Regions from separate parts of the Homo sapiens genome. Here region 1 is linked to region 2. The links come from fine-mapping of genetic effects on gene expression. A gene starts in region 2. The other region holds a variant in brackets. All regions are shown on one strand. Distances are between the middles of the regions.

Region 1 (5,390 bases), 54 kb after region 2:
TAGGTGGTGTGGCACTCCATGCAAGATGAATTTATACGCCAGTATAAGCACTTTGAAGGTTTGATAGCTCGCTGTTATCCTGGATCTGGTGTTACAATGGAATTCACTATTCAGGACATTCTGGATTATTGTTCCAGCATTGCACAGTCCCACTAAACCTTGTGAAAGAAGAAAAGATAACTGAATGAAGCATTTGAGTATAACAGACACTATACCAAAATACCAAGCAACTGTTTTGAGAACCCAGACTTAAAATTTTATGTATTATTAAATGTTAGATAAATGGGTAGTACCATACTACAAATATTTAAATGCAAAATTACCAACCTATATAGCAGTTTTATTTGCCCTATAGGTTGCATACTAACTTAAGCATTCATGTCACCATAAAATGCCTTTAGCATTTCTCAATGACTGGATGGGAAATTTTCCTTTATTGCCTAGCTGCTTGTGTTTGAGTGGTTGTCCTATGAGCAATGCATTTGGAGTTCTTCAGCTTTCACTACTTCTCTGTTGCTTGCTAATCATGTAACTACTAAAATACTGTACAAAATTGTTTTTTCACACTAACAAATGTGTATATGGAGAAGAGGGCTCATGTGATGATCATTTGTGAACTTAGATTTTTGAGGATTATGTGACTAGTAATAAATGTGAAATAAATTTTCAAAAAAGTTGACATTTGATAATATTTTTAGGTCTATCATATGCTGTCTTCTGTATTAAAGCAAGTTCTTACAAAATCCATATACAAAAATTAATTGCAAGTTTATATACCACAAAACACTTAAAAGTTTAATAATAAGTAAAGTAAGCCGGGTGCAGTGGTTCATGCCTGTAATTCCAGCACTCTAGGAGGCCAAGGAGGGAGGACTGATTGAGGCCAGGAATTTGAGACTAGTCTGGGCGACACAGTGAGACCCTGTCTCCATAGAAGAACAATTTTTTGTGGTGGCACATGCCTATAATCTAAGCCACTTGAGAAGCTGAGGCAGGAGGATTGCCCCAGCCCAAGAGTTTGAGTGAGTTGTGATTGTGCCACTGTACTCCATCCTGGGCAACATAGCAAGATATTGTCACTTGAAAAAAAAATAAGAAAAATAATAATATTGAAGATGTTTAGTATTTAGGACTAACTCTAACAAAAGATGTGCTATATCCTGAATTGTGGCCCTACTAACATTTTATGTTGATGCCCTAACCCCCCATGTGGCTGTATTGGAGATAGGGTCTTTAAGGAGACGATTAAGTTTAAATGAGGTCAGAAGAGTAGGAACCCTGATCCAATAGACTCAATGCCCTTGTAAGAAGAGGAAGAGACAGCAGAGCTCACTCTCCCTCTGCTGTGGGAGGGCACAATGAGAAGGCAGCTGTCTGCAAACCAGGAAGAGAGCCCTCACCAGAACCTGACCATGCTGGCACCATGATCTCAGACTTCCAGCCTCCAAAACTGAGAAAATAGTTTGGCAGCCCAAGCTAATACAAGATGTATAAGACATTTATGGAGAAATTAGAACTACTGAAAGATATTAAAGAAAACCAAAATAAGTGAAGAAGTATTTAATGTTTCCAGATAAGAACACATATACTAAAGTAGAAATGGCAGTCCTTTTTGTTTTGTTTTGTTTTGTTTGTTTTTTTTTGAGAGAGACAGGATCTCTCAGCTCTGTTACCCAGGCTGGAGTGCAGTGGTGTGATGATAGCTCACGGCAGCCTCTATCTCCTGGGCTCAAGTGATCCTCCCACCTCAGCCTCCCAAGCAGCTGAGACTACAGATGTGCACCACCACATCTGGCTAATTTTATTTTTTGTAGGAATGGGGTCTCACTATGTTTCTCAGGCTGATCTCAAACTCCTGGGTTCAAGTGAGGCTTCTGCCTCAGCCTCCCAAAGCACTAGGATTACAGGTGTGAGGCACTGCACCAGCTGGCAGTTATTTTCAAGTTTAAAGATTCAGCACAGTTCCAGTCAAAATCACAACTGTCTTTGTTTGGTTTTGTTTCTGTAGGACTTGACAAGCTGATTCTAAAATTTATATGAAAGATCAAAAGACTAATAGCCAATACTCCCCTTGGAAGCTGGAAGGAGTTTCCTTATCAAGAATTATAATTAAAGCAGCATTTTATTGGTACGAAGATAAACAAATAGACCAGTGGAATGAAACTGAGAGCCCAGAAACAGAACCATAAAAAATGGACTATTACCCGTGTGGCACGGCAAGTCAGTGGGGAAACGATAGACTTGGAATAAATGGTACTGAGACATTTGGTAGTCCATAAGAGAAAAGGTGAAAATGGAACACGTGTCTCACACCACACACACAAAATGAATTCCACGTGTACTGAATACCTAAATGTGAAAGGCAAAAACTATATAGAACTTTTCAAAGACAGTGTAAGAAAATATCTTTTTTGCCTCAGGACAGAGAAGGATTTTGTTTAAAAAGACACAAAATTGCAAATTGGAAAAAAATAATAGATTTGACTATATTAAAAATAAGAACTTAATGGTCTTTTGATGAAAGTGAAATAACAGTCCACAAATTAAGAGAATATAACTGCAACACGTCACAAAACAATCAGCATCCAAAGCCTATTTTTAAGCTCCCAAAAATCAGTCTAAAAAAAAAAAACCATAGAACAGAAAAACCCAAAAACCTTACAAAGGCATTTCACAGACGAAGGAAACAGAATGGCTAATAAACATACGAAGTATTCACCTTTATTTGTTATCAAGGAAATGTGAATTCAAAAGGATGTGAAGCCATCAAAACACAAATGCTTCTATAATCACTTAAACCATCTGACATTATCTAGTAAAGATGTGTGTCACCTATGACTCAGTAATTCCAGTCTTAGGTGTGTGCCCCAAAGGAATAGATCTTAAAATCCTGTATGTCTCTGCCAGATACCCTCCCCTTCGTTTCCTGCTTTACACATTAGAATAACCTATGTGCTTATAAATACATGTGGCTGGGCCCCAGACATTACATTTCAATTGGTCCAGAGTGGGGCCCAAGCATCTATGGTTTTTAAAAGCTTCCCACTAATTCTGGTACTCTAAGGATTGAGAACCACTGCCACAAAGAAACTCATGTATTATGAATTAATATTAGGTTGGTGCCAAAGTCATTGCCATTAAAAGTAATGGCAAAAACTGCAATTACTTTTGCACCAAACTAATACAAAGTCTAATGAAAGTTCCCATCACTACTTTTGTTTGTAATAACAAAAAACTGCAAATAACTGCAAAAAACTGCAAATAACCCATATGTCCATAATGGTAGAATGGATAGATTGAGGTATATATTCATTCAGTAGAATACCAATACAGTAGTGAAAATGAAAGTAAATTTCTGCTATACAAA[C/A]AATGTACATTAATGACAAGAAAATAATGTCAGATGAAAGTAAATCACAAAATACATGCAGTATGATCCTATTAATATAAAAATTCAGAAACCTTTAAGATTAAATAATATGTGGTTTGGGATTACAAATGTAAAACTAAAGAAAAGAGAATGATAAAATTCTGGAGTGATTGGAGGAGCAGGAAAGGAAGGGGATGGTGTCTGGCAGGGACATACAGGATTTCAAAGGGATATTAGAATATTCTTAAACTGGACAGTGCATACACAGATTTTTTGTATCCTGATACTTTATATCCTATATATAGTTTATAATTTTTTTTTTGAGACAGGGTCTCGCTCTGTCACCCAAGCTGGAGTACAGTGGCACGATCACAACTTGCTGCAGCCTCAACCTCCTGGGCCCAAGCAATCCTCCCACCTCAGCCTCCCAAGTAGCTGTGACTACAGGTGCATGCCACCATGTCCTGCGAATTTTTTTTTTTTTTTTTAAAGAAGGGGTTTTGCTATGTTGCCCAAGCTGGTCTCAGACTCCTGGCCTCAAGTGATCTGCCCACCTCAGCCTCCCAAAGTGCTGGGGTTACAGGCATGAGCCATCATGCCCAGTCATAAATCTTATTTTATATCAATTCAACACTTGATTTAAATATTTAAAATCAAATTCATATATGTGGATATGCATATATCTTTACTGATAGATAATGAAACCTAGACATTTATAGATAAGATCTAGGACCAAAGGAGATTTTAGTGCCTTGATCAAGGTCCAAGCCAGGTATTAACAGAGCTGATATTCCACACAACACCAAATTCCCTCTCAAAGTGCCAAACACTTCCTTTTCTCTATTGATATCAGGGATGACACAGATATAAACATATACCACCTCCAAGGACAAAACAGTGTCTGGTATCTTCATTAGCAGGCAATGGTTAATTGTAATGAGGTGATATGGCTCTTACTTAAAAGGTGGTGGATAACTCCCATCAGTTATAGTTTTATAAACCTTAAAGATCTATACTATTATTTGCTAGAAGTGATAACAAGAGAGGAACACAGAACTTTTAAACAAACTGTTGAAAATCATAACTTAGAGAATATTTGTAGATGAGAAAGTACTAAGAAAGTAAAAATAGCTTTTCCAGGAAAGTTAAATGTGTAATATCAATGGTGTCAAAGATTATTAGTTCTCATGGCTATATGCTTTGGGATCCTCTACTTCAATGTTTCTCATTGTATTTATTAAACAACTGGGAATCTTGTTGAAATGCATATTCTGATTCAATAGGTTTTGTGTCGCCCAAGATTCTGCATTTCTTACAAGCTCCCAAGTAGCATCAATGCTGCTGTTCCACAGCCCCTGCAGTTCAAGTTGCAAAGCTTTGAAGTGTAAAGTTACATCATTTGTGCCTCTGAATGACACTAGGCACCAAGGATATATATATCCTTCATATATATGGTATATATCCTTCATATATATGGTATATATATATCAATATATATGATATATATATCCTTCATACATTATATATATGAATGTATATGATATATGTCCTTCATATATATGATATATGTATATGAAGGAATACTAGTCAGCCATAAAAAGGAATGAATTAACAGCATTTGCAGTGACCTGGATGAGATTGGAGACTATTATTCAGAGTGAAGTAACTCAGGAATGGAAAACAAAACATTGTATGTTCTCACTGATATGTGGGAGTTAAGCTATGAGGATGCAAAGGCATAAGAATGATACAATGGGCTTTGGGGACTCGGCGGCAAGAGGGGGTTGCAAGGGATAGAAGACTACAAATATGGTGCAGTGTAGACTGCTCGGGTGATGGGTGCACCAAAATCTCACAAATCGCCAGTAAAGAACTTACTCATGTAAGCTGACACCACCTCTACCCCAATAACTTATGGAAAATTTTTTAAAAAGAGAGGATGGGGGAAGAAAGTCAAAAGGCGGTGGGATAGATGAAACAGGGAAGAAGAATATATTAACATAGATGGAGAAAGCGTTATAGG
Region 2 (5,390 bases):
CATGGTATACCACGTGTCCTAGGACTAGACAATTTGTTCCTCAGTTTTCTGGTTTTAAAATGAGGATAATAAAGATTCCTTCCTCACAGGGTAGTTGTGATGATTAAGTTAATTAATACATGTAAAATGCTTAGAATAGTACATAGCACATAATAAGTGCTATGTAATTGTTAGATATTATTCTGAGTTCCAGGAATCAGAGATACATCACTGAAAAAAACAGATAAAAATCTTTGCTTTCATAAAACTTCATTCTAGAGAAACAGCAAATGAACAAACAACATATACAATATGTCAAAATGTAGCAAGAACCATGAAGAACAAAAGTAAAAAAGGAAGATAAAAAATACTGGGAGGAGGGTGGTTGGGGAACTATTTTACATAGGGTTCTCTTGGAAGGCCTCAGTGAGGTAACATTTGAGCAAAGACTTGGAAGCAACATGGTAGTAAGCCATGCAGACTGAGGCATGAGAATTGCTTGAACCCAGGAGGTAGGAGGTTGCAGTGAGCTGAGATCATGTAAGTGTACTCCAGCCTGGGTGACAGAGCGAGACTCTGTCTCAAAAAAAAAAAAATTAGTATTTGCTAGATTGCAATAATTGGTTCTTCAGGAGTTGAGTGGGGAATGCTGCCACCAGGATAAACACTATGGAATTCATTGCACTTCAAACTTTTACTTAGTTACCTTGTGCTTCTTACGGAAGTGGACAAGCTGGCAAAGAAAGGAGTTACTATGCTCGTGGGAGTAATCAACTGTGATTAGCAAAAGGATCTAGGATTGTTGCTCCACAATAGCACTAGGGAGGAATTTGGAATCCAAATAATTCGCTGGGGCTTACTAGGTGTTTCTGTACCCAGGGATAATTTGAACAGGTAATTACAGCAATCATGGCTTAACCAGAGAAAGGAAAATAAAGGCTGAAGGTGGGGGCTATTTCACCAGAGAAACAACTTAGACCAGCTGATGTGCTGGTCAATGGTGAGGGAAAATTAGAATGGGTAGTGGAAGAGGGAGTTAATACAAGTATGGTCCTGACATTGATGCAGCAGTAAAAACTGAAGCTTATTCTATTAACTCTCTTATATTAAGGCTTTGCTGAGATTGTGGCTGGCCATCACCTTGAAGAGACCTCTGTGAAGGACTGAACATAACAGAGCACACAGGCAGATCAGAGTGCTGCAAGATATGGACACCTTCTATGTCCTTCTGTGCAACTTAGGCCATGACTTCAAATCCCTTCAGCCTATTATTCTAACCACTGCTGCAGCAACCTGCTCGGAGCAGGTTTGATGACCTTTGAACAAGTGCGAAATACCAGCACCTCTCCTCTCACTTCCTGCCCCAGCATGTCTCTGATGTGGGAGTCAGCTTGGCATTCACAACTGTGCGATTTGTAAGTGTGAAGTAGTTAATGCCCAAGGGCATTAACCTTCGATCAAAGAGGACAGGAGCCGACATACAAATGCTTCCTCCGTTCTTTCCTTTAATGGACAGTTCTGAGACTCATTTCATAAAGCTTCTTAGAAGGTCCTAAGGGACTAAGAAAACATTCAAATATGGTGATGACCAACTCAGTAACACATTCTTATACTGCATCTCCCTTTTTGTTTTGTCTTCTTCCTCTTCCCTCATTTTGCTCCCTGGGATCAAATTTCCAAATAAACTATTGCATATAAGTGTCACTTTGCAGGGAATCCAAGAGGAGAGAGGATAATTTAATTTTTGGACACACAAGTTTGAGGTGTCTATAAGACATCCAAGTGGAAATGTCAGGCGATGGGCAGTATATACACAAATCTTGAGGTTCAAGAAAGAGATCTAGGCTTCTGAAATGCAATTCATTTCCCAACTTTGAGGAGGGCTATAAACATACAGGTAAATAAAAGAAAGATAATAGGACCAAAAAACACATGCAATTGTCATAGAGTGTCCACAGTAAGCATTCCGGTGCCAAGCAGGAAAGGGTCTTTGTAAAGATATAACCAGATCCTGCTCTTAAAAGGGAAGTCATTTGATGAAAGTGAAAAGTATTCTAACTACTGTTTGCTCATTTAAATTTCTAGCACATTTATCTGATCTGTACCTCTCTTTGGTCACTTATTTTGTGTCCTATTTTATATATATTTGTACCTACACCTTGTCTAGTCCTACCACACTGTGAACTCCTTTAGGTTAAGATTCATGCCTGAATCACCTCTGTACCTGGAATCAAAGTGCCTAGCATTAAAAAAAAAAGGTGCCAGGAATATTGAATAAATAAAACACCTACCTGCAACCAGCAACATTGGCATCATTTATGCATCCCAAACTTAAATATGCATAAGCATCATCTTGCTAAGATGCAGATTCTGATTCAGTAGATCTGAAGTGAGCCAGAGAGGCTGCATTTCCTAAAAAGCCCCCAGATGATACCCAAGCAGCTGATCCACGGACCACACTTTGAGTATCAAGGTCATGAGGACAATGGTTCTTGACCTTAGCTGCATATGAGAATCATCTGGGAAGATATTAAAAGTACTGATGTCTGGGTCCCACCCGCAGGGATTCTGATTTAACTCATTTAAGCTCTCCAAAGTTTAAGTAGCAAAGATCTAGAGTTAATAGAGCTTTACGTATGAAAAAAGAAAACATTTAATCGAATTTCTTCTTAAATGAATTGCTGCAAATATCTGAATAAATAACTCTTAATCCCCAACTCCCAAGTCAGTTTCTGTGCCACAAAGGCCCCGCCCCTGCCCTTCCCTGACACGCCCCTCCAATGAGGCCTTGTTCCGCCTGGCCACGCCCGTCGGTTGGCGCCCCGCCCCTCCGCGTCTATTGGCCGCTCCCTTTTTCTCCCATCGCTGCTTCTTCCTTCTCTACGCGGTCAACTTCCGGCGCGGAGTTTGTCACGTGCCCGGATATAGGAAGTGTTGGGGGAACGGCCGCTTCCCGTTCAACGCTTTATTGAGGGGCGTATCCTAGTGGCCCCCATCCGGTCTCCGTTTTGGAAGACCCGCCTCGGCACAGCCAGGCTCAGTCCGGCCTTGCGGTAAGCCTTCGGCCGCGGCTGCCCGGTAGTCCCGGCGGCGGCGGACAGACGAGCTGACAGGCACCAGGGTCTAAGGCGGCTCCTCAGTCCGGCTGCTGTCTCCACGCCTGGGGTCGGGCACCGCTCCTTCTGACCTTCCTTTCCCCGTTTGTCCCGGTAAGACGAAGTTTGGTCAGAGCATTCTCCAGTCCCTTGTCCTCGGGTCTAGGAGAATGCGGAGCTGGGAGGGCAGTCCTCACGGGCCCCATTACGGTTCCGCCCATCGGAACCAGATTTTGTTTGTGCAAAATGACCCTGATCGTAAGCTCTTTGGCGTGGTCCAGGAGAGGAGAGCGTGACTGTGCCTTCCTCTTTGTCCAAATTCACATCCCGGCCCCCCAACCCCAACTCCCCCCCACCCCCCGCCAAATCTCTTAAGTGTATTTCTCTATTTCCTTGCACAGTTATATCTTCTAGATGGCAATGCTTCATGCATTAATATATCTCAGCAGCATACAGGGCCCAATGCACACGGGCACTCACACTGACAGGCTATTTGTCACACAGTGTGGTGGTCCAACTGAGCTGAAGGAAACAACCAGTACAGAGTAAGCAGTGGATGGCTGCCTTTGGAACGTGGTCAGATATGGGTTCTCAGACCTGGAGAATAATTTTAGAGGACCTCTAGGGATTTATTTACTGACTTTCAGAAAAGTACCGTAAAGACTGAAGAGTTAATCACTCGACTCTTAGGATGTAAATGCCATAGAAACACCCGGCTTCAGGTCTTCATAAACATATCTGTCATGTTGACTACTGTAACCTAGAATAGTGTCTGCCACCTAATAAGCATGAGTATTTGCTGAATGAATGAAGAGTCACATACTGCTTTTCATTATGGCTAACTCCTTTATGAGGTATGCCCAATCCTGTCTTGTTTTGCCTCTTACTGTACACTCAGTTGCTTTTAGCCAGAGAAGGAGTATGTGGTAAACGTTGGTCCCTATTATTCATTTGACCAGTTTTTACTATTCAGTTCTAATTACCTTAATAGATATTTAAGTATCCACTAAACACAAAACTATGATGAACATCCCTCCCTTCTTTAAGAGAATTCTTGAGATAGAGAAGCTTATGATTTAATGAGCCCATTAGACGGCAAATGCAGTAAGTGCTGTAGAAATTTAGAGGAGAGATCACTTTGGATTAAGATCTTCATTGAATCAACTTCATGTAAACCATGAAGTGTAATTAGGGTTTGGATAGGGCGGAGATGATATTCCTTACATGGAAAGTACCAAAGTGAAGATTTGATGTCCAAAATGAACAGAGTGTTTGGAGTGGAATGTTTTTGAGAACATTAGGAAAACGTTGAGTAAAAGCGTGATGTGATACAAACTGTCTTTTAAAATTATCTTGTTGTTCAGGGTTGTGGGACCTTGCAAAGAGAACCAGATTTTGTAGGGTTAAGTAAAGTTGATATGAACCTGGGTCAGTATATTTGCAGTGCGAAAAGAAAGGAATAAATTACATGTAGATGGGGGGAAATCGCAGAATGTGGTAGCAGATTTCATGTTGATAAGGGAATAGGGAAGCAAATATGGTAGATTTTGAACCTGGACATTTGCTTATAGATGTGAAAGTTAGGAAAGGGGAATCTTGGAGGAGCTATAGCTGTCATGTTAGTGAATTTAAGCATTTGTTAAATGCCTAGTTTGTCAAGTTCTAGGAATACAAAGATGATTAAGACATGGTCCTACTTTTAATAGGGGATAAAATACAGCTAGCTAGAAAATACAATTCATAAATGCCGTATTTATGAAGTAGAGGGGAAGTGTTAGAGAGGTAGAAATTACTCTTTGCGTGGGGCGGCTGCAGGGAGGGGGCTACTTTACAGAAAAGATGACATTTTAGCACAATCTTGAGGGATGAATTGTAATTTCCTAGGGAGAAGAGAATTCTAGGAAAAGAAGGTTGCATGAACAAAAGCCCAGAGATAGAAAAGTAAACTGGCCAGTGCCATTGTGGCTTGGGCTTAGGAAGAAATATAACATAGTGTCTGGGCCCTACAACATATTAAGGGATTAGCAGCATGGACACTCTATAATAAGCCAAAAGGAGGAGAGGTTGGGTGAAGGTGTGGAGAGACGGAGAAGCAAGCAATTGGGGATAATTGTATTTCATGGCTTTTATATCCTCTGCAAGGTAGATTGTTAAGTCATTTGCAGAGCGGGAGGAGGCTAACTGCTAGACCTGGAAACTGAAGGAGAGTAATAAGGATTTACAACAATAGTCATGGGGAACGGAAAAAGGAATCATCAAATGAGGGATTAATTGCCGAGCAGCATTGAAAGTCTAACTTTCACTGGATGTAGATAT

Alleles and levels. Alleles are on the strand shown, and positions count from the first base shown. SD is a standard deviation of normalised expression in the study named.
In carriers of allele C in region 1, the expression in fibroblasts of the gene that starts at base 2,883 in region 2 tends to be higher than with A alone (small effect, 0.25 SD a copy in GTEx).

Evidence for each region. PIP is the estimated chance that this variant, and not a neighbour inherited with it, causes the effect.
Region 1: its variant is the best candidate, but not a certain one, in a credible set for the expression of EXOC1 in fibroblasts (GTEx, PIP 0.50).

What each region holds. Positions count from the first base shown.
Region 1 is chr4:55,904,340-55,909,729 of GRCh38, forward strand. It overlaps EXOC1 (exocyst complex component 1), which reads left to right. Exons shown (of 19, transcript NM_001024924.2): 19 at 4-747. The coding sequence ends at 156. All of the region lies in intron 3 of EXOC1-AS1 (EXOC1 antisense RNA 1), which reads right to left. Among named protein-coding and RNA genes, the nearest start is that of EXOC1-AS1, 41 kb to the right of the region's middle. The variant C/A (reference allele first, on the strand shown) is at 3,368.
Region 2 is chr4:55,850,766-55,856,155 of GRCh38, forward strand. EXOC1 (exocyst complex component 1) reads left to right here and starts at 2,883. Exons shown (of 19, transcript NM_001024924.2): 1 at 2,883-3,188. RefSeq lists a silencer at 2,675-2,774.